Regions from separate parts of the Homo sapiens genome. Here region 2 is linked to region 1. The links come from fine-mapping of genetic effects on gene expression. A gene starts in region 1. The other region holds a variant in brackets. All regions are shown on one strand. Distances are between the middles of the regions.

The links. PIP is the estimated chance that this variant, and not a neighbour inherited with it, causes the effect.
Region 2: its variant is fine-mapped to the expression of TRIM23 in spleen (GTEx, PIP 0.91).

The regions. Positions count from the first base shown.
Region 1 is chr5:65,612,830-65,628,691 of GRCh38, forward strand. TRIM23 (tripartite motif containing 23) reads right to left here and starts at 11,504. Exons shown (of 11, transcript NM_001656.4): 1 at 11,365-11,504; 2 at 5,264-5,426; 3 at 1,269-1,390. The coding sequence starts at 11,445. It overlaps TRAPPC13 (trafficking protein particle complex subunit 13), which reads left to right and starts at 12,198. Exons shown (of 13, transcript NM_024941.4): 1 at 12,198-12,277. The coding sequence starts at 12,232. SHLD3 (shieldin complex subunit 3) reads left to right here and starts at 12,198. Exons shown (of 2, transcript NM_001365341.2): 1 at 12,198-12,277. RefSeq lists enhancers at 11,174-11,503, 11,634-11,713.
Region 2 is chr5:66,282,687-66,298,548 of GRCh38, forward strand. It overlaps LOC105379004 (a long non-coding RNA gene), which reads right to left and starts at 15,395. Exons shown (of 3, transcript XR_948385.3): 1 at 15,353-15,395. It overlaps LOC124900988 (a long non-coding RNA gene), which reads left to right and starts at 9,728. Exons shown (of 3, transcript XR_007058792.1): 1 at 9,728-9,944. The variant C/T (reference allele first, on the strand shown) is at 7,099.

The sequences.
Region 1 (15,862 bases):
ATAAACAAATAAATAAAACCTATATGTAAGCATGTAAATATTATTTCTAGTTTTCAGGAATTACAAAAAATAACTAATTATGAAATAATTACTTTTATTTCAAGTAGATAAAAAATTACATGTCAGATAATCAAGAATGTTTTGAACACTTTTACTCAATATTAAAAGGCCATAATTGGAAGGGGAGAAATTTAGTATAAATTTTTTCAAAAATAAAAATGTTTAAATACATCAATGGTGTCATTCTTTATCACATTAAATAAAAAATGAATCCAAAGTGGAAGAGTTTTGTTTGCAATTATGAGAAATAAACACATGTACCATAAAAATTCAGGTCTTCTGTTTCCCAGACCTGACAAATAAATAAATTATAAACTATAATGTCAACATTAGCTAACAGTAATGTCTTTTGAAATAAAGATTAAAGATTTAGCACAGAAAGAACTGCATAACTTTTAGAAAACAGAGTGTTGCAGTTTGAAATTCATTTCACTGATTCACTTTAGTATAAAGAAATCATCATCTAATGAAAGAGAAGTGAAAGCAATCCGACATTTTTTTTCCTTCATACAAAATATGTGGTTTGCAAGTTGATCACCAAAATCATTAACTGATATTTACTCCAAATATATTTTTACCCATAACAGCCTACGAAAGCCATGTCCTATAGTACATATGTGCAGCTATGCAAACACATAAGTGCTAAAAATATACTTTTACATTATTAAAATCCAGTGTTCATGGATTCTGATATTTACTAGACATCTACCTGTATGGATAAAGACAGTACATCTATACAAAGTTTAACCTTTTCTTGAAGCTATAACAGTAACAATTCCCTCAGAAGTTACTGCTATCTTTAAGGCATTTTCCCCTCTGTATTAAATGGCCTCTTACATCGAGTTTTTCTTTCTCTCATTGAGTTTTACTGTTGACTACTTTTGCATCCTCTTCTCTACTGTTGCTTACATATCTTTCTTACTATTCCATAATCTTCTTCCTCTTTTCACTTTATTCTTGGTAGAACTGAATTATGATAAGGAAAAAAAAGTTCACACATAAAGCATAGTTTAGGCATAGGATTTTCAAATAATTCTAGTTTTTTCTCTTGGGAATAGTGTTGGCCTTCAGAACTGTAATGTAATGAAAAGTTGTGTTTCTAGAAATTTACCTGCTGAAATAAATGAAGTAATATTGTGCTAATAATGGCATCTATTAAAAGAAAAATTCATGCTCGTAACAAATATTTCACCAAGTATGATCAATACCTCTCCAGATATCCCAATGGATTCTTCTGCAGCTCCATACTGACCAATAGGCCCATTCTGCAGTCGTTCCAAAAGCTCCAATAAAGCAAAATTTTTTTTCAATCCCCAGACACCTGAATCACCTAGAATAAATATAAAAACAAAAACTAAATCTAACAAAATGGACTATTAATCATTTTACCCATACCTCAAAAGTAATTTCTAATATAGTTCAGTAGTTAATGTCTAAATTTTTAAAATTCAAATTTTCCCCATTTTTAATACCAAAATAATTGCTTTGTTAATGCTCTCTTAAAAAACAGAAGAATCCTTCAGCCTTCCAAGTAGAAACACACTTTAAAATTTATTATTTTTTGGCCAGGTGCTTTGGCCCACGCCTGTAATCCCAGCAGTTTGGGAGGCTGAGGCGGACAGATCACTTAAGGCCAGGAGTTCAAGACCAGCCCAGTCAACATGGTGAAATCCCGTCTCTACTAAAAATACAAAAATTAGCCAGGTGTGGCGTCAGGCGCCCATAATCCCAGCCACTCAGGAGGCTGAGGGACGAGAATTGCTTGAACCCGGGAGGTGGAGGTTGCAGTGAGCCAAGATCACACCACTGCACTCCAATCTGGATGACAGAGCAAGACTCTATCTCAAAAAAAAAAAAAAAAAATCTAAATACACATAAAAAAAATTATGGTGGTAAAGGCTGCACAACAATATGAATGTACTTAATGTCCCTAAACTTAGAAATGGTTAAAACGGCAAATTTTATGTTATACATATATTTTGCCACAGTTTAAAAAAATTATTTAAATCTCTTTTACTTTTTTTTTGAGACAGAGTCTTGCTATGTTGCCCAGGCTGGTGTGCAGTAGCGTGATCTCTGCTCATTGCAATCTCCACCTTCCGGGTTCAAGTGATCCTCGTGCCCCAGCCTCCCAAGTGGCTGGGACTACAGGTGTGTGCCACTATGCCCAGCTGATTTTTTTGTATATTTTGGTAGAGATGGGGTTTCGCCATGCTGGTCAGGCCGGTCTCAAAACTCCTGGCCTAAAGTGATCTGACTGCCTCAGCCTCCCAAAGTGCTGGGATTACAGGTGTGAGCCACCGTGCCCAGCCTATTTCTCTATCATTTAATTTTACAAGTCCTATTTTGTCATTGACTTTTACTATACATGCTAAAACAAGCATTTTCAAATACTTTTTGCAGCAACCTACCTTAAGAAATACATATAACATTGTAACCCAGGACAACATACACACTCTTCCTGAACCTATGAATAAAAGTCAGATCCTTTAGCAGAAGGAATATTTGTTATGGTAAACTCCTATGCAACAAATAACATCTGATATAGCTGCCACCTAATACATATTCATTAAATGAATAAATATATAAAAGGTTGATGGAGTCATTGCCTGCAGGGCCCCCCTTCCTCCTGGCTCTTAAAAAAAAAAAAGCCATTCTGTGTTGTGGTTCTCCCAAAAAAACTGGACTGAACATATCTATCCTCAGCCTTGCCCCTAGAAGGCTTTCTCCTTAATTTTTAACACATATTCTACAACAAGCTGAGTTCTATCTATTTACATAAAGGTTAAGAAGTACACTAAGTGATCATTTAAAAATATAGTCTTGACAATTTTCTAAATATCCAGTCACTATATAATGAATATATACAAATAAACCTCTAGCATTATTACTAGGTAGTGCCTAATATTTATATCACTTAATTCTGTGTCAAAACAACTCTATAATCTCAATGGCTTAACACAACAAAGATTTATTTTTTGCATCATGCAACATCTCAGGGATTAGGGAAGACAAGAGAGACTCTGTTCCCCACTGACCACAAACAGGGACACAGCCTACCGAGCCTCCAACCATCTGGACCACCTCACTGCAGCAAGGAGAAGAATTTACTTTGAAAATCATAAACCTTCTCTTATTAACTTCTACCTGGATGCTAACACTTCACTTCTGCTTACATTTCACTGATCAATGAACATCACACAGTGATGCGTAAGAGGGCAAGGAAGTGTAATTTCACCATATGAGCAGAAGAAAATCAGGAATATTGCTGAATGGTATTAATAACTACTCATATTCTTCTTGGACTAGAGAGAAATTCTGATTCAGGATTCAGAGAAGTCAGAGAGGAGGATGGATGTATTCAGTCTAGTTCCCTGTCATAAATTTCTAGTTTTGTTAAACATTGAGGATAGTAACTCTTCACATTGTGGTATTAATGTAGAGAAGGTAAAGTGCTCTTCAAAAAGGTAGAAGAGCCAGGTGTGGTGGCTCATGCCTGTAATCCCAGCACTTTGGGAGGCTGAGGTGGATCACTTGAGGTCAGGAGTTCGAGACCAGCCAGGCCAACATGGTGAAACCCCATCTCTACTAAAAATACACAAATTAGTCAGGCGTGGTGGCAGGTGCCTGTAATCCCAGCTACTCAGGAGGCTGAGGCAGGAGAATCGCTTGAACCCCAGAGGTGAAGGCTGCAGTGAGCTGAGATCGCGCCACAGCACTCCAGCCTGGGTGACGGAGTAACACTCTGCTTTAAAAAAAAAAAAAAAAAAAAAAGTAGAAGAAAGGTTCTATTCTCTATTTGAAAAACATTACTATTTCTTTAAGCATAGTTTTTTTGTTTGTTTGTCTGAGACCAAGTTTTGCTCTTGTTGCCCAGGCTGGAGGGCAATGGCGTGATCTAGGCTCACTGCAACCTCCATCTCCCAGGCTCAAGCGATTCTCCTGCCTCAGCCTCCCAAGTAGCTGGGATTACAGGCATCCACCACCATGCCTAGCTAATTTTTACATTTTTAGAAGAAAAGGGGTCTCACCATTTTGGCCAGGCTGGCCTTGAACTCCTGACTTCAGGTGATCCACCCATCTTAGCCTTGCAAAGTTCTGGATTACAGGTATGAGCCACCTCACCTGGCCTAAGTATAGTTTTATATAAAGAAATAGTATGATATATGCATATTTCACATAATAAAAGACCAAATAAAAGTACAGAGACTTTCCCAATCCCTATTATTTCTTGGCTACTGGTAAGTTAATGCTATCTATAATGTTATTACTGTCTATTAGTTGTCAGGCAAATAGACTATTTATATACATCAAAGATCACCAAAACCTTAAAAATCCTTTTCTTTCTCCAGAAAATATTTTAAAACCATGTTTCTTAGCATTTCAAAGTCTTCCAGCCTAAAATTATAGGTACTCTTGCTTCCTTTTTTGGTGGATAAATTATTTTGAATGTGTTCCACTTGAAAAATAGTATGAATATATTAAAACTGTCTTAGATAGTGCAACTGACCTGGAAAAAAAATGGCAACCTTAAACTCTTTTGGAGAAAACTCCCTTATCAAAAAGAGTAAACTTACAGAACTTACGTTTGTAAAATAACTGTTCAAATGTTAGTAAATGCTATTATTTCCAAATCTGGTATCTGAAAATAACTTAGTTTGAAATACGTAAAGAAAAGTTTTAAAAGTATACAGAAAACTGCAAAAAAAAGCCACAAACCCTTCAAACTCATTTTAACAGAAAATAAAGAGTAATTATCACAAGCTACAAACACTTCTGTCCTTGATATTAGTAAATAAAAACATGGTGAGACTCAAATGACTTATCTGTATTTTCATTATTGGCTTATTTATTTGTAAAGAAAACATTGTTCTATTGGGTTTATGGCTTCAGGCAAATGATTCACTCTGTGATACACATTCTTATTTATTTGAATCAGGGTAGCACGTTTTTCTCAGGTGTCTTAAAGCTCTTTACAGATAAGTATTGAATATAAACATCTCAGAAGATAAAATAAAATTAGTAACTAAGAGTGAGATAGTTTATAGCTTGAAGATTATTGACCTTAATAGAAACTTAGGCTTTCTGAAACTTTCTGGGAATTTTATCATTCTAAAAATCAAGTGGAAGGACATTGTTTCCTATGACATTTGCATTACATGAACAATTTTCAATCTTAAATCCATACAAATACTTTTCCTACCTAGGTCTGTTACTTGTCGATCAAATGGGCAACGGATTGCTCTTCCATGAAGAGGTAGGCGAGTGAGACAGTCATGACAGACGGTATGGCCACAAAGCAAAAGACGGGGAACTTTGTCTCCTTGCAAAGAAAAGACATCTTCACAAACTCCACACTCTAGCACCTAATATTTGAAAAGGAAGGATGTGCTCTTTAAACAATTTTAAAAGCATACATATTTTAGGTATATAAGAAAATTCACCTAATATATTGAATCAACATTGTTACTTTATTCCTCTATGAAAAAAAAACTATGTAGGTTGTAAAATCTTGAATCACTTTTAAGTCATTCCATTTGACCGACCCTGTCAAAATTATATCATAATGAAATATCTTTGAAATACTAAGTGTTGGGGCAAAGATGCTGTAAATTAACATCTTTGTTATCTTTTGAAAATTATGATTTCAGTCATTACATCTGAATCTGTACAAACAATATGTAATTCTACTGAAGGTGGGTTCTTAAGCAATTTCTCTGCAACTACCTAACCCATCATTAATTTCAACACAAATAAACTATCATTAATTTCAACAAAAATAATCTAAAATATGTACTGAGATAACAATTACCCCTGCAAATGATAAAGAACTTGTTAAGAAAAGACTGCAAGTAACTTTCAAGTATCTTCTACTATCTAATGTACATTAAATAATACAAAGGCAAAAAAAGCAATCATCTTAAATTTCAATTCCTGTTCTCTATCAATAAATATAGCTCTGAATTAGAAACTAGTTTGTCTTTCTAGCTCTAGTTACAGACACATGACTTGCACAAGGCTACACAGTCAGTCAAAAGAAAGGCCATTTATCAGCATATTCTGATTCTCAAGTCCATAAGTTTATGTTTTACAAATAGTCAACAAATTGTATTTATAGCAATAAAGCATTTTCAGCACTTATTTCTAAGTATATTTGTAGTGTTTCATACCTTGCATTAATTTTTTAAAAATACCCACACTGTACTATTCAATCATACCTCAAACTCCTGTCATTCAAGACCTGCTACAATCTGGTCCCTGTCCTATTGCTTCACTGCCATACTCTTCTGACCCTATGCTCCAACTATATCCAACAGCTTATAGTTCTCAGAACATGAGAAACTGTTTCATGTCTCTTCATGCTAACACTGAGGAAAGGACTATACTTGTCCTTTGGGCCCCGATGTACTCTGTATAAGCGTCTACCGTAACACCCAAAACACTTTAATACCTTGGTCTTTTAGCCCGTCTTTCCCTGTTGGACCAAAGAACCCTCAGGAACTGGGTATTTTAAATACCAAGTACCTACTGCTTACATAAAGTCCAGTAAAATAATTTAAAAACAATTAAGCTCACCATCATCAAACACACAACACGAGGTAAAAAACAGAAAACCCAAGGCAGAAATCAGACTAAATCTACTATGATTTTAAACCTAACTCTACAATTAACTTGGACTTAGTGCTTGAGATGCAAATATCTTTCACCATACAGTGATAATTCATAATTGCTTTGCATCTTATCATGGTTCAAAAGAAATTTAAATTTAGTCCTTCAATGTAAATAAGGGTTTGGGAAGATAAAAATGAATAAAAATAAGAAACATAACATTGTTCAGAGAAAAGAAGATGAAAATTCTTTACGTGAAAAGATGTTCAATCTAACTCATAATAAGAAAAATGCAAATTAAAGCTAGGCATGGTGGTTCATGCCTGTAATCCCAACACTTTGGGAGGCCGAGGCGAGTGGATCATCTGAGGTCAGGAGTTCGAGACCAGCCTGGACAACATGGTGAAATCCCATCTCTACTAAAAATACAAAAAAATTAGCCAGGCATAGTGGTGGGCGCCTGTAAGCCCAGTTTACTCAGGAGGCTGAGGCAGGATAATTGCTTGAGCCTGGGAGGCGGAGGTTGCAGTGAGCCAAGATCACGCCACCGCACTCCAGCCTAGGTGACAGAATGACACTCGGTCTCAAAAAAATAAAGAAAGAAAAATGCAAATTAAAGCTACATCAAAATACTTTTTTCAGATTAGATCAAAAATGTTGGTAACATTTTGTTAGTGAAGGTGTGGGAAAGCAGACACTCTCATACATTACTAATTGCTATGAAATGTTTATTGAGCAATACAGCTTCTATGGAGGGCAACTTGACAATACTTACCAAATTTAAATAACTCAGTAATTCTAGTTGCAGGAATTTATCCTACAAGCATACTAGACACGTGTGACAAAATCTGTATGTTACTCCTTAAAGCATCATTTGCATTAGCAAAAAATTGGAAAGAAAGTAAATATACATCAATATCAGCTTGGAAAATAAATTGTGGCACATTCATAATACTATAAAACTATATAGGATAGTGAGAAAGATGAAGTTTTTCATATATACACAGAATGATTTCATATGATTAAAACAAAAAGAAAAATAATAGAATATATTCATTTTTGCATAAAGGTGGGGAAAGAGCAAATTTTTTTTGTATTGTTGTATAAGCGTATTGTCTTCCTGGAAGGATACATAGGACACCAGTAACATTGGAACACTGGTTCCCCATGAAAAAGGCAAACAACTGGGGAACAGCTATCCACGTATAATTCTGTCTATTATTCATATATACACATACTTCAATTTATCCTACATTTTTTAAAAAGGGGAAAGTTTCACGTTATCAAATTCTTTAGGCCAGGCACTGTGGCTCACACCTGTAATCACAGCACTTTGGGACACCAAGGCAAGAGGACTGCTTGAGGCCAGGAGTTCAAGACCAGCCTGGGCAACACAGCGAGACCCTGTCTCTACAAAAAAAAATCAAAAACTGAGGTGGGAGGATCATTTGAGCCCAGGAGGTCGAGGTTGCTATGAGCCATGATCGTGCCATTGCACTCCCACCTGGGTGACAGAGTGAGAACCTGCCTCAAAAAAAAAAAATTCAATTAAATATAGAAAAAATATTCATAGGCTGGGTGCGGTGGCTCACGCCTGTAATCTCAGCACTTTGGGAGGCCAAGGCGGGCAGATCACGAGGTCAGGAGATTGAGACCATCCTGGCTAACGTGGTGAAATCCCATCTCTACCAAAAATACAAAAAATTAGCCAGGCGCGGTGGCGGGCACCTGTAGTCCCAGCTACTCGGGAGGCTGAGGCAGGAGAATGGTATGAACCTAAGAGGCGGAGCTTGCAGTGAGCCAAGATTGTGCCACTGCCCTCCAGCCTGGGCGACAGAGTGAGGCTCTGTCTCAAAAATTCACAATAGAATTTGATATAAAATAAATGCAACATTTTATAAATGCTGTATTATGATACTCTAATAAAGTAAATTTATGACAATAAACTCCAAAGAACCATATTAAAATTGTTTAGTTCATTTCAATCCTGTATCTCTGATCCCATCACTATACAAAGATTTAAAAGAACTTCCTTATGCTGTTAATGTATTTTTCAAAAAGCACTAATAAAATTCCATTGATTAGCAAACCAAACACAGGTCCAAAAATAAAGTTACTAGACTATTTTGCATCAACTCGGTAAATAATACAGCAAGAAAATATTTCCTCAGTATCTATAAATAGGAATTGTGGTTAACAGCAAAAAACCCTAGATAGGAAAAAGCTCTTAATTTTACACTTCAAAAAATGCCAAAAAAGCTTCAAACTTATTACTTGTAAATCAAACTGTAATCAATCAGATATTTTATTTTATGTTGTTATTTATTATTATTATTATTTTTTTTTTGAGAAAGGGTCTCACTCTGTCAGCCAGGCTGGAGAGTAGTGGCCTGAGCATGGTTCACTGCAGCCTTGACCTCCCAAGCTCAGACAATCCTCCTGCCTCAGACTCCCAAGTAGCTGGTACCACAGGCATGTGCCACTACGCCTGGCTAATTTTTTTTTATTATTATTTGTAGAGATAGGATCTCACCATGTTGCCCAGGCTGGTCTCAAACTCTGGGGCTCAAGCAATCCTCCCACCTCAGCCTCCCAAAGTGCTGAGATTAAAGGTGTGAAACTTTCTGTGATACATTTTTAAATGTCAGTTATTTCACAATATCAGATTTTTTATCTTTTATTTTTCAGATGGAGTCTCACTCTGTCACCCAGGCTGGAATGCAGTGGCACAAACTCAGCTCACTGCAACCTCCGCCTCCTGGGTTCAAGTGATTCTCCTACCTCAGCCTCCTGAGTAACTGGGATTAACAGGCCCACACCACAATGCCTGGCTACGTTTTGTATTATTAGTAGAGACGGGGTTTCGCCATGTTGGCCAGGCTAGTCTCAAACTCCTGACCTCAAGTGATCCGCCCACTTTGGCCTCCCAAAGTGCTTCCCAGGCACTTTGTGCTTTACAGGCGTGTGCCACCGCGCCTAGCCACAATATCAGATTTTTATGTTACTGTTTTCTCTAATGATAAAAGCCATGTCATTATCAACTTGTTCACAAGCAAAAGGCCATTTTACACAGTATTAGCATTATATACTTCAACTTTTACCTTCCAATAAATACTTCTTGCTTTCATCTATAGAAATGACAGTGAGATTTTTTTAGTTTATGCTACTATACCTACTACAAATTATGGCATGAAGATTTTGTCAGAAAGGACTATTTCATTGCACAGTTCAGGAATATTTTACATGTTAAGATGAAAATGAACAAGGTGAGCCTCCAATGTATCAAATTCTGTGCTGTAAGAAACTGGAGTTACATCAGGCTTTGGTACACTTTTGAGACTGTAAGGCAAACAGGGTAACAAAAAAATAGATACTGCAATGATACCCATTCCAATTATGAAATAAAACTTAAACTTCAAGTTAATTCACAAACTGCTCTTCAAGTATTCTCTACTTAGCAAAAGCACAATTCAATAAATAAAATCTCAGTCACACAACATGCCTAATAATGAGGGCTCCTTTGCATATCAGATATGCCGTGTACCTGTAGAATAACTTCATTAGTACCTAAAGGTCATCTGAATCAACAACCACCAATATTCACTGATACTAAATTGTGGGAAGAAATGTCTCATTTGCTGTCATATAAAACCAACATTACCTGAATAATCATAGGTGTCTACTTTTCAAGATGTGAAAAAAACTTCATATATTACCTTGATCAGTAATTCATAACCCTGGTTGCACATTAAAATAACTTCTGGTAATTCCTAAAATATACTGATGTCAACCTCATCAGAACTGGAGGAGGAGTGCATCAGTAGTGTACTAAAACTCCTCAGTGATCCTAATATGTAGCCAGGAATGAGAATTATCAATCTCTTAGATTAGAGATGCTCCTGAAGGTTACTCTATAAACCAATGGGATCAGTTCTCCCCTCCATATCTTTCCGTGCACAACAGTGGAAGGGAAAAATGAGTGCCACATATTTCAAATGATTTTTTAGCAAATTGATTCTGGAGCATGTATACATGGTAGAATCTCAAACTTCAAGCATAAGAAAATTCATAAACTCTATCGTTAATGCCCAGCTATGACGATGCTGCAGACTTGTGCAAAGAGTTAATAGACTGTACTACTAACAGGGGAGGGGGCAGCTCACCCAATAACAGATGTCTGATTACAGACGCAGTACAAGAGCGAAAAGTACAGACTTTAAAGCCGGTCAACCCGGGGCTCTGCCACACACTGTTTACCTAAACCTGGGTTTCCTCCCTGTAAAATGGGAATTCACATCTACTTCATAAGTAGATATTAACGAGCTAAAACACCTAACTTAGTACGTAGTTACGATGATGATGACTCAATTTATAATACTAAGCTAATTAATGTCTGTTGAGTTTAACTAAAAGCAGAGGACCTGGAGAAAAGACCGGTCTAGGTCACTGCCACTGGCCCGCAAGCTCCTTTTCACAAATGTCCCGATGATGACATGTCATGAGCAGAAGACCAGGCAATTTCAGGCCATAGGAGAGAAAGGATGCAGAGGACAGGACGAGACTTGTAATGCCAAAAGGGGCCCAGAGGCCGCGCATCCCACCTATCGAAGCCTGGGCCGCGGCGATGCCGCCAGGTCTCCAGGATGAACCGAAGGGAGGCCGATGGTGGAGAATAGAGCACGCAAGGTCCCTCACCTTCACTACAGCTGTCCCCCGGCTGCCCTGCCGGCCACTGTCTACTCCCGCTCCGAGCTTGTTTACAACCAGGGTAGCCATCCTCGCAGGGGAAGCGCCACAGAAACAGCCTTCAGAGTCCTCAACTGAGAGGCGGGGTTGAGCCACCTACCCAGAGGCCTCTGCGCACGCCACCGGCGCACAGGCGCAGTAGGACACTGGGCGCCGCTTAGCCGACTCTTACTCCTCCTCCCCGCAATCGTCGGGTGGTTAGTTGCACAGCCTCGCGCATGGGCACTTTTGTTATTTTTCATTATGTAGTCTGCAGCTGCTGGAGGAAAGACAAGAAAAAAAAAGAAGGGACAAAACGATTAAAGTTTTGGGGTGAAAACTCCAGATCCTTTAATGATTTTTCCTCTCGAATCCAAACCAGCCAGGGCGTGAACTGAGGGCGGTGAGGGGGTACGGGCATCTCCCTGCATGCAACGCGGTTTTTGTATAAACTACAAATCCCAGCATGCCACTCTCTCTCTCTCTCTTTTTTTTTTTTTTTTTTTTTTTTAAAAAAAAAACTCCGGCAACGTTGGCCTTTGGGAGGCCGCGTATTGTTACCTAGGGGTGGTTTCTTTTCCTGCAGTCGCGATGTGTGATTGCAGATGGAAAACAAAGTATTTTATGCCTACGTTTCTAAGATAGAAGAAATGGACTTGTTGAAAAGAAGCCAGTTTGTAAAGGACACAGTAGGAGAATTTAAGGTACCACCACCAGAGAGAGGTTGAGAGTGCGTTTGACTTTTGGTTTTGCCAAACGCGAGGTTTTCCGTTTCCTTCCGGGGCAAGTTGAACCTGTCCAGCCCCCGTAGGCTGTGGGTCAAAAGTGCCGGTCAAAATGGAAGTGAATCCCCCTAAACAGGAGCACCTGCTGGCGCTAAAAGGTAAACTTTTGCGAACCTGATTCCCCCTTTTCTGTTTCCTTGCATTCCCTACTTATCGAAGCCTTTGCCATGTAGGCCTCATCCTTCTTAAACACTCAGTGCTCGCCCTCCTGCTCTGTCCTTTGCCGCCAAGCGGGAGGAAGCGATTTCTCCTGGATGCTTTTTAGGTTTATGGGCCCCTTTCTAGAACGAAATAGATACCTGGTAAATCGTTCTTTCTGATCTGTGCTGCTTCAGTCACGAGATTTTAGCCGCAGAAGCTGACGTCCCGCTCCTACCGTGGAGATCTCTGTGAATTACAGCGGGCATCCAAAGTGCTTTTTCCTTCTGTCTCTTGTTTCTTCCTGTGGCACTGACGAAGTTAATCAGGCTTCAGCTTCCCCTGTAAAATTAGTATTGCATGACAGTAGTGCAGAGAATTTAGCAATACATAGTAATACAACATATAACTTAGATTTATTCAAAACAAACTGCAGTTTACTTCAAATCACTGTGTATGTGGGAAATATGTCCGAGATCTAATGTCAACTCTCATTTTTTGTACACAGCCATTTTGAGTAAGTTTGGTGATTTAATTAGATCATTATTTAGGAAAAAACAGCAGCACTTTTTTTTTTAGGACAATTTTTTTAATGCCTATTTTCTGGAAACCTTTTATTTGAAATCTTTTCAGCTTTATTTTATTTGTTTTTTACTACAACAAATGCGCTTTTTGTTTCTTGGATGCCTTAATATATGGTTAACAATGACTTCTTGAATGAGCTGAGGAAATGCTCAATAAACATTCGGGTTCAATTGAATTGCGCTTACTTTACTTATGGCATCCATTTTGAGGAACGCCTTATCCTTCCCATTATGATGTAGTCATCAGACTTTCTAGAAGCTCATCAGTCTCATATAATGATGCCTGTGTTAGCGAGATTGTCTCTTACTGTGGAACTTTGTAATGTTTAGTGATACAGTGATGGGACCTGTAAGCTTAACCTGAGCAAATGATCTAGACTAAAATGGAGATTAAAATGGATTGTTACTCGTGGAGAAGAGGGAAAAGAAGAAAAGCAACTAATTGTCGTGTTCTTTATCTCACAATCTCACTTCAAGTATGTGGAGTAAATATTAATTCTCAGAGTTTAAGTAACTTTTCCAAGATCACATAGCTAGTGATTGAGGCAGTGTTTCAACGCAAGGCCTGCCTCTCTTTCCAAGAGTCCGTGTTGCCTCCTAAAGAATGAAGCAGCATTCTCAGAGATAATTCCTCTACCAGCTACTCCGATGGGAATTTGGAACAGTTCTATTAACTGCTACGTGTGATTTATACAAATTAGAAGCTATTAAAAACAGTTAAATTGCAGCCGCGCGTGGTGGCTCACCCCTGTAATCCCAGCAGTTTGGGAGGCCAAGGCGGGTGATCACAAGGTCAAGAGATCAAGACCATCCTGGCTAACATAGTGAAACCCCGTCTCTATAAAAATACAAAAAGTTAGCCAGGCGTGGTGGCGGGCGCCTGTAGTCCCAGTTACTCAGGAGGCTGAGGCAGGAGAATGGCGTGAACCCGGGAGGCGGAGCTTGCAGTGATCCGAGATCACGCCACTGCACGCCATCCTAGGCAACAGAGCGAGACTCCATCTCAAAAAACAAACAAACAAAAAGTTAAATTCCAGTGATACAGAGACTGCCACTGGGAATTTTTAGTTTTCTGTTATTCTTTTTTTTCCAAAACCAAGGATACCTAAGAAAGAATATTTAAGCAGCCTAAGCCAGGCGTGGTGGCTCACGCCTGTAATAGCACTTTGGGAGGCCGAGGCTGGCAGATCACTTGAGATCAGGAGTTGACACCAGCCTGGCCAACATGGCGAAAACCCGTCTATACCAAAAATACAAAAATTAGCCAGGTGTGGTGGTGTAATCCCAGCTACTCGGGAGACTGAGGCAGGAGAACCGCTTGAACCTGGGAGGCAGAGGCTGCAGTGAGCTGAGATTGCGCCACTGCACTCCAGCCTGGGTGACAGAGTGAGACCCTGTCTCAAAAAAAAAAAAAAAAAAAAAAAAAAGAACAATAAGCAGCCTAAACGGACAAGTGCTTCAAAATTGACTGATAGTTTCAACTTTATTAAACCTCTTTAGTACCATCTTATAGTTAACCCATTGTTCTAGTTAATCAACAATTTTCACACATTTCAATGTGCTGATGCTGAATGCCAAATGTATTAATTTAAGTGGTCATTTAAGTTCACTTTATCTTTTAATATGTAAAATGTTAAAGATAATATCTTGTTATTCTTGGTTGGGTGAGGTGGCTGATCACTTGAGATCAGGAGTTCGAGACCAGCCTAGCCAACATTATGAAACCCCGTCTCTACTGAAAATACAAAAATTAGCCAGGCGTGATGGTGTGCACCAGTGGTCCCAGCTACTCAGGAGGCTGAGGCACAAGAATCACTTGACCCTGGGAGGCGAAGGTTGCTGTAAGCCGAGATTGTGCCACTGCACTCTAACCTGGGCAACAAAGACTCTGTCTCAAAAAAAAAAAAAAAGTCATCCCTTGAGTATAACACTGATTGACTTTAGACAACAAGAGAATTTCTCAGTGCCATATTTTACAATGTGAAAGTATAAGGAACAGGGAAGAAAAACATTAGTGCATCATTAGTTCTTGAAAGTATATATGATAACATTTAGATCCATATTTAAAATATGGATGTTAAAGATCACAATTATTTATGAATTTGAGAGTTGTCAGATCTGTTAGTGGGCAGTATCAGTAGGTAAAAATAATGAAATTATTTCTTCTAACTCTTCAGAATCAGACAGTGATTCTATTGTGAAATGATGACAAGAATCCATACTCATGGTTATCCTAGCAGTGGGAGAACCCTCATCAAGTAATTCTCTAATGATTTTTGGGGAGAAGGGATTCAACTTATTTTTTTCTGCTGTTGTTAGGATGTGAAAAAGTCTGTTTTATGGCTCTTACAGCTTTGGGCCTGATTAGCAAGCCTAACTTGCAGATATTGGAAGGCTCCATTCTTGAGCCTATGCACCATATGCTGGAATTTATTATCAGTGACTTAATTTGGGGCAACTTGAGGACTTCTGTGCTCTAAGAGAAAAAAATAGGAGTCTAGACTTCTTGTTCTCTTCCAAACTGGAATTCAAAAGCCATGGTATTGGGGTCTCCATACTGTTTAATTGCCTGGATTATGAGGAGAAGACAGTGTCACAAAACTGGTTCTTAGCCTGGTTAAACCATATTAGCAAAGTTAAACCATATTAATGGTTTTAGTTTTTACTACAGAGAATGACGTGAAATCATCAAATATTCTATCTATATATTTGTTTGGTGGAATCCATATAATTTTTTTTTTTTTTTTGAGACGGAGTCTTGCCCTGTCACCCAGGCTGGAGTGCAATGGGAGTACGATGGCGCGATCTCAGTTCACTGCAAACCTCAACCTCCCGGGTTCAAGCGATTCTCCTCCCTCAGCCTCCTGAGTAGCTGGGATTACAGGCACACGCCACCACAGCCGGCTATTTTTTGTATCTTTAGTAGAGCCGGAGTTTCACCATGTTGGCCAGGCTGGTCTC
Region 2 (15,862 bases), 670 kb after region 1:
ATGTCAGTGATAAAATATTCCTCCTTGCCGAGATAGACCACTTCACTATTTGTTTTAAATACAGAGAATATTTGTATCTATTTAAAATAGGTGTTTGTATTTATTTTAAATTGCATTTCAAAATTGTGTATCATTTCATATAAATTGGAATATAGTTTGTATCAATGCTTCATTTGTGATAAAACTTTATTTCCAGTAAAAAATATATGTGATATGCCTAAAGGATAACTGGTTGGATTTCTATAGAACCCAGCCCATGACTTGCTTAGATACATTAAGCTGTCTTTCTCTTCAGAGCACTGATCAACCATCACCACTAGCCTAGCCCCATTTGTGCAGTTTAAAGTTGAGGAACTAGGAAAAAATAAGATTTTTGGCATGTGCTAGTGTTTCAAACCTGTATTTAAAAAATGTCAGGAAATATCACCCTAATTTCTCTCTTTAAAACAGTTGTCATGTATATCTAGTGATTAGCAGGACTGACGTTGTGCCACATTTAGACTCTTAGTAAACTATTTCTTGGATGAATCTTTTCCTAAAATCGTCCATTTCTATAACTTATCTGTAACTTATATCCATATGCATTTAATCCACTTTAATTTATAACTCAGGCCATTCTAAGTATCTTCTCATTGGTTCTTCTTCATCAGATTAGGATGTTTATGCTCCCTTGTGGTAAGCAAATGTCACCTTCTTCTTCATGAAGTATTTGCTTAGTGTTTCATTTGTGCTCTCTCATTCCATGGGAGGAAGGGGAGGTCTGCAAACTGAAAACCTTTTCACTCTTTGGCTCTTTGGTGTCTTGCCACTTTTCAATTGTTAGGAAGCAGGCCCCGCACAGGCAGGTTAATGTCTTCACTTGACGTGGAAATATTAGCCATCTGCTTATGTGACTTTCTTAAGAAGGTGTTAGGCCCTTGACTGTTCTTTGAGAAAACTAAGATAAAGCAAGTGTATTTTAACAAAATATAGTGCTTTCTGCCCACCATTCTCTTCATTTTGAGTTATGGGCTCCAGTGATACCTTGTTCCTCAAGAAAATTACTCTCCATTACTCAATTTTCAGATCTCTGTCTAAGTGGGTGTCTACCAATTCCTTTTGGCAGTGGTGTGTGCCTGACATGGTGGGATGGTGAGGAGAGACGCCTGTGCAGATTGAAGATGTGGCTCCTGCCAGCTGTAAACCTGCAGAGGTGTATTCTTTTGCTGCAATTCGGTGTTCTTGTAAGTTGGTCTGTCACCATCAGGCTCATGAGGAAAGGGACCCAAGAGAAAACAGAAACCAGCCTGAGCCCTCGAGGGTCTTATGTGTGGCATAGTTTAGGCTAGTGTTACCGGGGGGGTGAAATTGTTTGCTATTGCCCAGACTCAGATGGCAAAGACAAGTGTGGCCCAGATTGAAAGGAGTGCAGGAGGGCTGTGGGCTGTGCCCAGGCTCATCCCTGACAATGCTGCCTGTTGGGTTTATCATACTGGCCACAGGTAAGGCATTTGGGCAGCTGAGCCCAGGTGTTAACCTGTAAGTTGCATAAATTGTTCAAAGGAGCTTTGGAAAGCATCAGACAAAAGTGTTGCAAGGAGAACAACACAACTGAGAAAGGAGATAGACAGGGCTACAATCTCCTGTTTTACAGACTTTCCTGTTCCCTTCCTTACATTTTCAGAGGAAAAAAAGGCACAAAATGCAGTTGTTTTATAGCTTGCAGAGGAGTGACTTTGACAAGTTGTGGAAGGCCCACAGAGGACTGGCACTAGGGGATAGAAAGTCCTAATTGTTAGAAGGAGAAACAGGTCTAAAGGTTTTTAGACACCTCTTTAGGGGGTAATTATGACTATGACTTGGAATATCTAATATGTTCTTGCAGATGTATTCAAATCCACAACAATTTTTCTTTGGTCATCTCTCCTTTCTTTATGCTCATGTCAGAGTCCTTGAAAACTTGGTTCCCTAGTGTTACCACATAGCCATATATTCAGGCAAATGGTCCAATAAGGGTTATATTAAGGTTATTTAACAACTGGCAGTGCAAACACCAACCAGTCAAATGGCACCCTAATGAATCAATACAGAGGCACACAAGTGGCACAGCTGTCTTAGTACATGCTGGCTGAGTGTCAGCCCTGGGATGACAAGGTGATCTGACCTTGGGAACTTCAGAATGTCTTCATGAGCTGTCCCACCTCACTGGAAAACAGGCTTGCTTGCTCTTTCTCTCCTTCACCATGTCTGTCTATTTCTCTCTCACACAAGAGAAATGAGATTTATCAGAACCAGATTAAGGGTCAGGCACACCAAGGCAACAATCTATAAAAAGCACTACAACATCACTGGAATAAAAGAGAAATATTATGCCAGTTAATTAGGGCTTCTTAAAAACCTGGTGAAGTATAAATTTCTCTCTTATTGAAATAAACGGTAACCTGTTTTGATTTCTATCTATTTTGATATGTGTTTCTGTGTGGGGCAAGATTCATGTGCAAATGCAGATTGCACCACCAACTCTGAGACCTGCCAGCTGATGATTGCCTGAAGTCTGGGTCAAGTTCAGCTGAGAAATTGGAAGTAAACAAACTATGGTGTATTGCTCTATCCTAGACTTTGTAACAGTGGTCATAGAATTTAGAGATTCTCAATAGTTTATTACTGGGACGTCACAGGTGGGTACACATGTGCTACAAGATATTGTTCCTTTCAGCCCTCAAGGTGGTTGGGCAGGGCCTGCAGAGGCGGAGCTCCTGAGCAGCCTCATATGGGGCTCCTTGGAGGGCAGCCTGAGTGGAGCAGAGTCTGTGACTGCTCTGTGGTGCCCCTGGGTGACAAGTGTGATGAGCAACAGCCAGCACTTATGACTCTAGGTTGATGTGTTGTGGGAGGTCATGGTGCTCTACCACTCAGAGACTACTTGAGCAGCTGCCTGCGGCAGAGTACATTGATGCTGCCTGTTGTGGACAAGGGTCCTGTGGAGCTATTGGAGAATTTGTGGTTTTGGTGTGTAAGGAGCGGATGGTTGGATGTGGGAGGGGTAGAGGTTGTATATGGTTCCTGTGGGCCCAGCTCCAGGTCCTGTTTCAGAGTTAGTCACTCTCTGTATGTATTTTAGTCTCTCTTTCTCTGTATTAGTTGTCTATTGCTGCTGTAACACATAACCATAAATTTAGTGGCTTTTAAGAACATAGATTTACTATCATACAGTTCTAGAGGTCAGAGTCTGTAATGGGCTTCACTAGACCAAAATCAAGGTATTGGCCAGGTTGCATTCCTTCTGGAGGCTCTAGGGAAGAATCCGTTCCCTTTCCTTTTTTAGCTTTTAGAGGACACTTGTTGGCTCATGGCCCCTTCCTCCAGCATCAAAGCCAATAGCCCACCATCTTCAAGTCTCTCTCTGACTCTGCCCTCTGTTTTTGTTGTTGTATCTTCTCTGCCTGACTCTCCTGCCTACCACTTTTCCTTAGAAGGACCTTTGTAGTGATATTGGGTCTACACAGATAATCAGGATAATCTCCTCAGCTTGAGCTCCTTAATTTAATCACGTCCGTAGGGTCCCTTACCATGTGAAATAACATATTCACAGGTCTCCGGGACTGCAGCAGACATCTTTAGTGGGCTATTATTCCACCTCCTATACATATGATGGCTGCCCTTGTCTGATCTGCAGCTGATTCACCCTGAAGGATGACATTCATGCCCTCTGTTTGAGTGTTATCATTGTTTTGAAATACTTGACGTGAAAAAGTTTATTGGATTATAAATCTATTCTCATCATTAAAAATATTTCATTATGATATTGGCCAATGGGGAAAAAAGAGTGGTTAGATTTCTAAAATACAATTTGAACCATTATAAATTTTTCAAAAGTTATAAAAATGATTAAAACATTTGTATTATCATAATTATGAGAACAAAATTTCTCATTGATGTGACTCACAGACTTAAAGGATCATCATTAAAAACTCTTGATCACAAATTGTGTGCAGCCATTTCAGCTTTAAAATCTGGTATAAGAAAGTTACGGTTGTTAACGTTCATGGAAGCAAACTTGAGTTTCTAATTCTAATTTTAAAAAATGTAAAAATTGCTGGGAAAGTAATATTCAAATTAGATATTTAACATCTTTCTTAATATTTTATATTTAATTTTTTATCATTATAGCATATAAAACAAAAAAAAGTCACGAGGTGTTTTACACCAAGCTCCAAAGAGATATACCCATACCTCCCCCAGATTACCTCAGTGTACTCTACAAATATTATCATTTTCTATGTGTGGATAATGTGAAAAAAAAGTTGGAGAGAATGGATGTGAGTGAGGTCATCCTTTGTGACTGTATAGGACCAACTCATAGAGGTTTTTCTACAAATATTATCATTTTCTATGTGTGGATAATGTGAAAAAAAGTTGGAGAGAATGGATGTGAGTGAGATTATCCTTTGTGACTGTGTAGGACCAACTCATAGCTGTTTTAAAGAAAATACTACAAAATGATAGACAATTTCAATATAAGATTGATTGCTATGTTTAGAACACATGATAGATCCCTTATTTTGACCATAAAGAAAGAAGTCTATAGCTTTTATTCATAGACTATTAGCCTTTCCTCATGCCTGCTAGGGAATGTTGAACAAATTCTTATCACGTGAAGGGGTTTCCAATTATTAGTCTTCTGTGGGTACCCCATGTTTTGGTCTTTCCAAATTATTTCTGAAAGTTTCCTTAGATTCTTTTTCTTTTTTGGAGACAGGGTCTCACTCTGTTGCCCAGGCTGGAGTGCAGTGGTGGGATCATGGCTCACTGCAGCCTCGAACTCCTGGGCTCAAGTGATCCTCCCACCTCAGCCTCCCAAGTATTTGGGACTATAGGTGTGCACCACCATGCCTGGCTAATTTTAAAATTTTCTGTAGAGATGGGGCCTCCCTATGTTGCTCAGGCTGGTCTTGAATTCCTGTGCTCAAACAATGTGTTGGGATTACAGGAGTGAGGCACTGCACCTAGCCCATCTTTGATTGTAAAATAAATCTATAAATTTCAAAGAATTTGAGTCAAAATGCCTGAAGAAATAAATATTTTAGGTCAGGCACGGTGGCTCATGCCTGTAATTCTAACGCTTTGGGAGGCCAAAGCAGGCAGATTGTTTGAGCCCAAAAGTTCAAGACCAGCCTGGGCAATATGGCAAAACTCCATCTCTACCAAAAATATACAAAAGTAGCTGGGTGTGGTAATGTGCACCTACAGTCCTAGCTACTTGGGAGGCTGAGGTGAGAGGATGGCTTGAGCCTGGGAGGTGGAGGTTGCAGTGAGCTGAGACTGTGCCACTGTACTCCAGCCTGGGCAACAGAGCCAGACCCTGTCTCATTTAAAACAAATTTTGTTCTAGTATGGATTGCAGTGGACACATTTATTTTTATTAAGAAAGCCAACAGAAATGACCTCATAAACCCATGTCCTATAATGGGGTCCCTGTTCTAATGTGCATGGAAATGGAGGCAGGGAAGTGGGTGCTGAAAGGCAGTTTCACACAGTCCTGGCCGCATAACATTGGACCTTGGGGCATGAACAGGCACTTCAAAAGAAGGCATACAAGCAGCCAACAGACACATGAAAAAATGCTCAACTTCACTAATCATCAGAGAAATGAAGATAGCCACGGATACCATCTCACACCAGTCAGAATGACTTTTATTAAAAAGTAAAACAAACAAACAAACAAAAACCCAAACAGATATTGGCAGGGATGCAGAGTAAAGAGGACGCTTACACACTGCTTGTGACAATGTAAATTAGTTCAGCCACTGTGGAGAACAATTTGGAGATTTCTTAAAGAACTAAGAGTTGAACTACCATTTGACCCAGCAATCCCATTACTGGGTTTATATCCAAAAGAAAATAGATCTACCAAAAAGACATTTGCATTCACATGCTCATTGCAGCCCTATTCACAATAGCAAAGACATGGAATCAAGTCAAGCACCCATCAGTGGTGGATTGGATAAAGAAAATGTGTTACATATATACCGTGGAATATGATGCAGCCCTAAAAAAGAATGAAATCATGTCCTTTGCAGCAACATGGATAGAGCTGGAGGCCATTATCCTAAGTAAATTAACAAAGAAACAGAAAATCAAGCACTGCATGTTCTCACTTATAAGTGGGAGCTAAAAATTGGGTACACATTGACATAAAGATGGGAACAATAGACACGGGGGAATGTAAGTGTGGCAGGAGGGAAGGGATACATGGTTGAAAAACGACTTATTGGGTACTGTGTTCACTACCTGGATGACAGGTTCAATCGTACTCCAAACCTCAGCATCATAAAATGCACCAGGTAGCAAACCTGCACATGGACCCCCTGAATCTAAAATAAAAGTTTAAAAATAAAATAAAATATCTTTGTAAAACAAAAAAGAACAAACCTTGGTCCTGGAACACTTCCCTACCAAAAGATAAAGAGCTACACGGCCTGCGCTGGGTGTATTGGCTTGTGTGGAAATATCTTTCCCTGTTGCAAGCCCAATGTATGCTCCTTTGTCCTGCTTAGGCAGGTGCATCACATGGCACTGGGCCAACCCCACAGCTGTATGTTTCCTCCACAGGGAGGGGACTAGGTCCGTATACTGTGGCAGGGGTACACATAGCCAATTGCTCTGTGTGGGCTGTCAGGAGAGATCCACTGGCCATGGGATACTGGCACACATTGCTGAAGCAGCTCTTGCCATATCTCTTCTCCGTGTAAGTAAAGTGTTGTTCCATCCAGTGCTTGACTGCGTCCTGTTTTCCTTGGCGACTCCAGCACCATAATGCAATGGGCAAAGTATTAGGACTTCTCTTCCTGGTGGTTGGCATAGTGGTCGTCTTTGCTATTCTCTTGGTCTTAGAAATCCTGCCTTGGGGTTGGTAACCAGTGCGTGGGATTCCTCTCCCCTGGGACTGATAACGGTGAACGACATTCTGCTTAACATGGGGCACAGTGAGAGCCTCTTTGCTCCCCAGGGAACCCTTGGAAGGAGAGGCTGAGAGCAGCTTCGGCAGCACCACATGAGGATAGGTTGTAGGGAAGGAAGGCAGGAGTTTCTTGGGCAACCTGTGGCCTTCGTCTGTTC[C/T]GGGCATCTGTCCTCAGGTTGGCCTCTTCCCAAGCCTACCTCTCTCTGCCAGCCCTGTCATTCTCCACCTCCAGGATCGAGAAGCTGGTGGTCCACACAGAGCTTCTGGCGCCATTTCATCCTGTAGATGTGAAGACAAAATTCTGTCCAAGTAGTCTTTCCCTGCTGAAGTTAATGCAAATTTGTTCTCTGCTCTCAATACCTTTTATTCACTGCCTGATGTTGTACCACCTCCCACCCCAGGTCAATGGTTCTGATACCTCTGTTTATGACATAGGGTGACATGCATAATAACTGTACCTCTTTCATTCCCCTCTTCTGATTCAGAAGGTCAGAATCCCCAAGCAGGGGTCACTTTAGTACTTGGTATATATTGATAGTAAGTGCTCAACAAATACCTGTTGAATGAGTGAATGTATAATGAATGAAAAAATGATTTTTATGGAACAGATTAGATTGCATACTAAATGTTTTAGGGAAAATTATCAGGAACAGGAATTTACCAAGGGCAAAATCCTTAGGTCCCGTTTTTCTGATGTGCCCTTTTAAGCTTATATTCCTAGAAGTTAATTATTTATTGAAAAAGTAGTTTATACTCATTACATCTATTTTTTAAAGTTACAGAAAAGTATAAAGAATAAAATAAGAACTGTTTATAATCTCTTGTCTTGGAGATATCACTCCTAGCATTGCTGTATATTTTTCTAGACTTTTTTTCTAGTCACATATGCGAGAGTGTGTGTGTGTGTGTGTGTGTCTGTCTGTCCCCGTGTCACAATAAAGAAATACCTCAGGATGGGTAATTTATAAAGAAAAAAGGTTTAATTGGCTCACAATTCTGCAGGCCATACAGGAAGGATGACGCTGGCATCTGTTTGGGTTCTGGTGAGGCCTCAGGAAGCTTTTACTCACGGCAGAAGGCGACAGGGAGCAATGTCGCATGGTGAGAGTGGGAGCAAGAGAGAGAGCAGGGGAAGGTCCCAGACTCTTTTAAACAACCAAATCTCATGTGAACTAACTGTGCCAGAGCTCACTCATCACCAGGGGGATGGTGCTAACCATTCATGAAGGATCTGCCCCCATGATCCAATCACCCCCCACCAGTCCCCAGCTCCAACATTGGGAATCACATTTCAACATGAGATTTGGAGGGACAAACATCCAAACCATTTCAATATATAGTATATATGCCTTTTACAAAAATAAAACTCTGTGATGTTGCTTTATAAGATGTACAAATCTTATGTTTTGTACATGTTTTTAGCAGTACAAATAAAAGTGTATTTAAATGTTATATTAATGTAGATCAACCATCATCCTTCCTATATATTTAGAGTTTATGTATGTATTCACATACGTGTGTGTGTTTGTGTATATATACACATGTATGCGTGTGTATATATAAATATATATGTATATATGTATGTATATGAAGAATCTTATACGTCAAGATCCCACAACTCTGGCCTCTGGCCAGGCTTCCTTGAGGCATGGGAGTGAGATAGGCTGGGGCATATCTTGGCCTCCCTCCTGTATGGGCCCTTGAGTGGGTTAGTCACTTAACTTGTAGATTGCCAGTTTTTACCTTGCACGTTTTGTCTGCCTTGTAGGACTATTGTAAATTTAAAGGAGATGAGATGCTTTCTACATCTCACTTACAACTCCAGATGCCAATAATGATCATCCAATAATTAAATGTTAATATCCTTCTCCTTTAAACTTTTCTTTTCTTTTTGAGACAGGGTCTTGCTCTGTTACCCAGGCTGGAATGCAGTGGTGTGATCCTGGCTTACTGCAGCTTTGACTTTCCAGGGTCAAGGATCCTCCCATCTCAGCCTCCAGAGTAGCTGAGACTACAGGCTCACATCACCAGGCTTGGCTAATTTTTGTATTTTTTGTGGAGACAAGGTTTCACCATGTTGCCCTGGCTGGTCTTGAACTCCTGAGCTCAAGCGATCTGCCCACCTTGGCCTCCCAAAATGCTGGGATTATAGGTGTAAACTCTTTGTTAAGAAAATGATTCATGCCTCTAAGTTATGCCTCCTGGCTTTTTTTCTTAAATAAAAAAGATCCATTTTATGAACAGATGAACTGAAATTACCATTATTTTGATAGTTATGTCAGAATGTCTCACCACTGCACCTTCACAGTTTGCATGAATTACTGGTGCCACCCAAGGCTAGCTGTCAGGGAGCTCAGTGCGGCAGCAAGGCAGTTTGTCACATCTTTATGTCTTTCTTCTTTCCTACACAGGCACAGGCAGTCAGTTCCAAACACACCATTTTCTAATATGAAGGGCAGCAAACAATAATGGCTAAAAGCAATTTCAGTACCTTATCTCCACTGCCTGATCATGCACCACCTCCCACCCCCAGGTCAATGGTTCTGATTCCTGTTTATGACCATAGGCCGCTAAGGGAGCCCCATCTTCAGCCTTTCTTATTATGTTAAAGGCCTATAGTCCTGCTGGGGCAGAGAAGCCCACCAGAGAATGAATAGTGGCTCAATTTTTCTCAGAAGCCCAGCAGTATGTAATTATTCCAGTAATCCCATAGGCATTCAGATTGAAATCGTCATCATCCATGACAAATAATTATTAAGTCCCACTTTGTGTTTGGTTTCTAGGTATAATGAATGAGGTGGCAGAAAGTTTTTCGGTTAAAAGGACTAAAATCCATTTAATGCCTGGATGGACATCAGAATTAGGTGACAGATGAATCATGTGCCAGTCAAGGCAAGAAATGGTCTTTTCCGAAGTGGATATAAGCACTAAGTTGAGAGTCTCCTGATTGTTCCTTAGACTTTCTAGTTCCCACAACCTTGGGGACTCTGTAGGTGCCTACTGGGTAAGTGCTTGTTAATTTATTGTGTTTAGTATTTTAGAATGATAGAAACTGTTCTCTACTTTGGAAATGAGCAAAATAAGTTTAAATGTTGATAGTGTGTAATGATGTCTACATTCGCAGGTGGGGAAGAATTTAGAGAATTAAAAACAAATGTGTGAGCAGCCTCTTTAGATGAGCAAGGGAGGCTGTTCAGGTGTCCACCTGTGGACAAAGTATAATAATTTGTCCTCAGGCATAGGTGCTTTGGTGTTCTCTGAATGCATCCATGCCTGGTGGGGAGGAAGACTATTACCTAGCTTCAGTTTAGGCATAAATGAGTGAGAACAAAAATGCTTAGGCTTTGGCATAGTTTTGAGAAAAGATCAGTGCCTGTTAAGATTTCTAGACTCTTGGATCCTGGGAGGCAGTGGACAGAGAGTGGTGGAGAGATAACAATGACACTGCTGCCTTCTGTAAATGTCCTCATCTGCAAAATGTCTGGGTTGGACTGTCCAGCTTGAGCTCAGTGCTCCTTTCCTTCCTTGTCCATGGTTACTTCCTCCTTTGGCTCTTTCCCATTTATTTATTCATTTAACATTTACATAGTAAAGAACTGTGGGGCAAGACAGCCCCTGTCCCCCACCCCCCACCCATGTGGCTCCAGGTAGTAGGAGAGACAGATAAATGAGCAGATGGTTGCAGTCTAGTGGGGTAGGTGACATGCAGCCTGAGGACGGCTGGAAAATGCCAGGCAAAGGGCTGTGATAGGAGAACTTGAGGAGGGTGGAGAGGGAGTATCCCAGGAGAGGCCTGGAAGTGAGGGAACAAGCGAGGTATGTGCTATCAGGGGCACAAAGTCCCTCTATTCTCTAACTGGGGGTCTGCAAAAAGCAGGAAAGTGTATTGTGGAGAGCAGTAAAGAGGTCAGGAAAAGGCAGGGCACTGGAGGTTCTTTTCCTTTCTTTTTCTTACTTTTCTTTCTTACTTTGAAACCTCTCCATTTATGTGGACTTCCTCTAGTATGGAAATATGGGGACAAATAAATCCCTGCCCCCATCCATGCCCCCCACCATCTGAGTGCTCTCAGACACGCAGGTCGGGTGGTAGGAGAAGTGATGATGGGCTTCGTTGTCCAGCAGAGCGGTTCTCAAGTGCTCGCAGACATCAGAATCGCCTGGAGAGCTTGCTGAAACACAGACCGCAGACCCTCACCCTTGAGTTGCAGTTTCAGCACATCTGGGGTCAGGCCCCAAAATTTGCATTTCTTACAAGTTCCCAGGGGGTGCGGCTGCTGCTGATGGGTGGTCCTCGCTCTGAGACCTGCCCTAGACCCTCCTTTCTCAACCTGTAGTCCCAGAACCAGCAGCATCAGCATGGCCTGGGGCATGTTAGAAATGCAGCATCTTGGACTTTAACCCAGACCTCCTGAAGCGGAACCTGCACCACAAGCTCCCCGGTGGCTCCCATGCACGCGACAGTCAGAGAACACTGCTCTAGATGTCCAGAGCCTTTAGTCCAGGACTTTGAGATGTTTCCTCCAAGCAAAAAGCCTTCCACGGGCTCCCGCTCAAGTCCTGGGCCTGCGGTGCTGAGACAGGGCAGTGGCGTCTTGGTGCTCAGGCCTTGGGGTTAGGAGGTAGGAGGAAGGAGATCCTGACCATGAGAGAGAGACCTCCGTGGCCACAGCCTGCAGGTGACATGTAGCAGAAACACTTTCTCTCCTTGGTGCATTCCCACAGCCTGTGAGGGGCTCAACAGCACTGCTGAGCCACATCCTCCCAAGTACACAGAGAGGCAGAGGGCTGGACCCCAGTCTGGAGGGAGATCCCACAGCACCACGCTAGAGAGTCCTGCCAGCTTAGGTCCTCCCTGTCTGTCTGGCCCTCTCAGAAATATGCAGTGTTGGATCTAAAACATATAAAGAATGTTTATAGATCAAAAATAAGAAGACAACCCAATAAGAAAATGGGCAAAAGGTTTGAATAAACATGACAGAGAAGATATATCAAATGCCAATAAGCCCATGAAAATATGCTCAACATCACTAGTTAGTAAGCAAACGTGAATAGAGCCATAGTGGGATACCCCCACACTACACCCATTAGAATGGTAAACAAATAAAACAGCAGAACAAAATGCTGATCATAACAAGCATTGGAGAGGGTATTGGGCAGCTGGAACTCTCACATAGTGCTAGTGGAAATGTCAAATGGTACAATCACTTCCAGTTTGTCAGTTTCTTAAAAAGTTAAATGTATATTTACCGTACGAAATAGCCCTTCCATTCCTCAGTATTTATGCAAGGAAATGAAAACATGTGTACAGAAAAATGTGTACACAAATATTCACATCAGTTTTTCTGGATAATAGCTCCAAACTGAAATGAATGTCCAGAACAGGAGCATGGATAAACTAGAAGAAAAAAGCTAGAAAATAAAATGCAGGACTGATATGCACAATGTGGATGAATCTCAAAATTATTAGGCTGAGTGAAAGATCCAGAATAACAGTCCATACTCTATGACTTCATTTATCTAAACTCTAGGAAATGGGAAGCAATCTATAGGGCTAGAAAGTGGCTAAGAGACTGATTGCCTGATGAAGGGGTGGAGGGAGGGACGGGGCAAAGGGGTACCAGGACATTTTGCAGGGCAGTGGAAATGTTTGTTATCTTGATTGTGGTGGTGCTTTTACAGTACTGTACATGTGTCAAACTGATCACATTGTGCACTCTAATATGCACAGTTTAGTGTACTTCCATCATACTCCAATAAAGTCGAGGGCTGTGTGCCCCATTTCAGTGTTGGGAAAAACAAGAGTGGGTGATGAACTGGCCACCCTGGGGGTATCTGATGTTCAGAGGCCAAACAGAACCTTGGGCGTAGGAAGAGGTCTCAGCAGCGTAAAAACACCCAAAAGCTTAATGAGAAGGCTACAGTCAGAATCTGTGTGTCTGTTGACCGTGTCAGGACCCTGAATAGATTCAGGTAATTTACCAGACCTTTACTGGCCTTGTGCTGGCTTCAGAGATGGATAACAAGAGCAAGACATATATAAGAATTATTAGGCTGGGTGCAGTGACTCACGTCTGTAATCTCAGCACTTTGAGAGGCGGAGGCAAGTGGATTACTTGAGGCCAGGAGTTAGAGACCAGCCTGGTCAACATGGCGTTTCTACTAAAAATGCAAAAATTAGCCAGGTGTGGTGGCACACACCTGTAATCTCAGCTACTCAGAAGGCTGAGGCATGAGAATTGCTTCAGCCTGGGAGATGGAGGCTGCAGTGAGCTGAGATTGCATCACTGCATTCCAGCCTGGGTGACAGAGTGAGACTGTCTCAAAAATAAATAAATAAATAAATAAATAATTAAATGGAGAAATAGAGAGAAACAGAGACATGTAGAAAAACGATGAAAGGGCAGGCATTAATTGTTGGCTGGTGTGGGGACACAGAGCATTTGTGCAAGAGATAGAGAGAGTGGGAGCGCTCTGCCTGCCCCCTGCATCCTCAGCAGGAAGTGAGGGTGAGCACAGAACCTCCTTCATTTGCTGCCCGGAGCTGCCATTGTTTAGTAGTGTTGTATCAACTTGGTTATTTATGCCTCTACCTCAGTTTTCTTACCTGTAAAATGGGGATAATACCTATCCCCTAGAGTTATAAAATTTTCCATTAATAAGCGTTATTTTTTAGAGCAGTTGTGGGTTTGTGAAGAAATTTTGCAGAAAGTACAATTTCTCATATACCCCTTCTCTCCCTTTCCTATTTCATAGTTCCTCTGGGTTTCGACAAACGCATGTCATGTATTCATCATCACAGTATCATACAGAACAGTTTCACCGCTCTAAAAATCCCCCATGCTCCATCTCTTCATTCCTCCCTTCCTTCCTCCCCAACTCCTGGCAACCACTGATCTTTTTACTGTCTCTATAGTTTTGTCTTTTCCAGAATGGCATATAGTTGGAATCACAGTAGGTAGCCTTTTTAGACTGGCTTCTTTCACTTAGAATATGCATTTAAAATTCCTCTATGTCTTTTCATTGCTTGAAAGCTCATTTCTGAATAACACTTCATTATAAATATGGACCAGTTTGCTTATCCACTAATCTACCAAAGGGTGTCTTGGTTACTTCTGGTTTTTTGACAATTATGAATAAAGGTACTATAAACATTTGTGTGGAGGTTTTTGTGTCGATATAAGTTTTCAATTCATGGGGGTAAATACCCTAGGAACTCAATTGCTGGAAAGTACAAGCCTATTTTAGCTTTGTAAGAAACTATCAAACTGTCTTCCCAAGTGGCTGTGCCATTTTGCATCCCCACTAGCAATGAATAAGAATGCCTGTTGTTCCACATCCTCACCAGCATTTGGTGTTGTCTGTGTTTTGGATCTCAGCCATCTGTAGGGTTTCCATAAGCACTGAATAAAATGATGAATGTAAATCTCTGATCACAGGCCCTGGTACAGAGGCGTTGCTCGGTATCCAGCAGCTGTTGTTACTATCTTTGATACCTTTCCTCCTTTGCCCGTGCCCTTCCTCCTCTTCTTGGCCTGCTTTAATCCTCTCTTTTATTTAAGGCACAGTTTTCAGTTTTTAATCTTTGAAAACTCTTTCTCCTCCTCTCTGCCAGCCTCTTCCCCTGAACTCCTTGTCACTTCTAATTAGACTTGTGACATGCATGGTTCAATAATCACTTGCAGTATTAGGATTCTACAGAGAAACAGACCTATAGGAGGTTATCTACTATCTATCTATCTATCTATCTATCTATCTATCTATCTATCTATCTATCTATCATCTATCTATCTATCTATCTATCTATCATCTATCTATCTATCTATCATCTATCTATCATCTATCTATCTATCTATCATCTATTATTATTTCTCTGTCTGTCTATTATCTATCTATCTAGAAATATTTGTTTTAAGGAATTGGCTGCTCACATGGTGATGAGACTGGCAGGTCTAAAATCTGCAGTTTGGGCTGCAGACCCAGGGGAGACCTAGGGGAGAGCAGATATGCGGTTCAAGTCTGAAGGCTATCTGATGGCAGAATTTCTTCTTGCTCAGGGGAGATCGATCTTTTGTTGTATTCAGGCCTTCAACTGACTGGATGAGGCCCACCCACATTATGGAGGGTTACTGCTTTTCTAAGAGCCCACCAATCGAAATATTAATCTCATCAAAAACACCCTTACAAAAACATCCAGAATAATGTTTGACCGAATATGTGGGCATTGTGGCCCAGCTAAATCACATAAAATCGACCATCGCAAGTATGTGGATAGTGTTTTGACATTAAATTAGGAGCAAGAACCTTGTTCTGAACTTTTTCCATCCCAGCCAGCTCTAGCACTGAGGCAGATTCTAAACGGGCATGATAAATATTGGCTGAAAGAATGCTTGAGGGAAAGAGTCCTTTAGTTACCTGGTTTCAGATGTAGTATGCGGGGGTGATAAGGTGACTGCCATAATACCAGAGTGATCATTTACATTAAGGTATTCTTGCTTGAAGGAATTCACCACAGAGGATAATTTTGAATTATGTGAAAAATTTACAGAAATTTTAAAGATAGTGGTATTTCCAAATGAATTAGGGAGGCAAATTATTAACCTTTGTGATTTTGACTACCTGCCTCCTCTCCTTTTATTCCTTCTTCACTATGGAGGGATATAAAATAAGAATGAACTGAAACTATACTTGCAGGTGTCCAAGGTTTCTATGGAGACAGATCTTTGTAATTATTACTTTGTGGGTTGTTAGGAACTCACCTGTGAGGTACAGTGAGTGGAAAGTTCTGAGAGTCTGTGGCTCAGCCATCGTGACTATGTAACCAGTATTGGTCGGTGGCCCAAGGTCTCTCTCCTTTCAGGGTTCAACCTCCAACCTTATTTCTGCTTCCTTCATGTTGGAATTCACACTGTGAGGTAAATACAC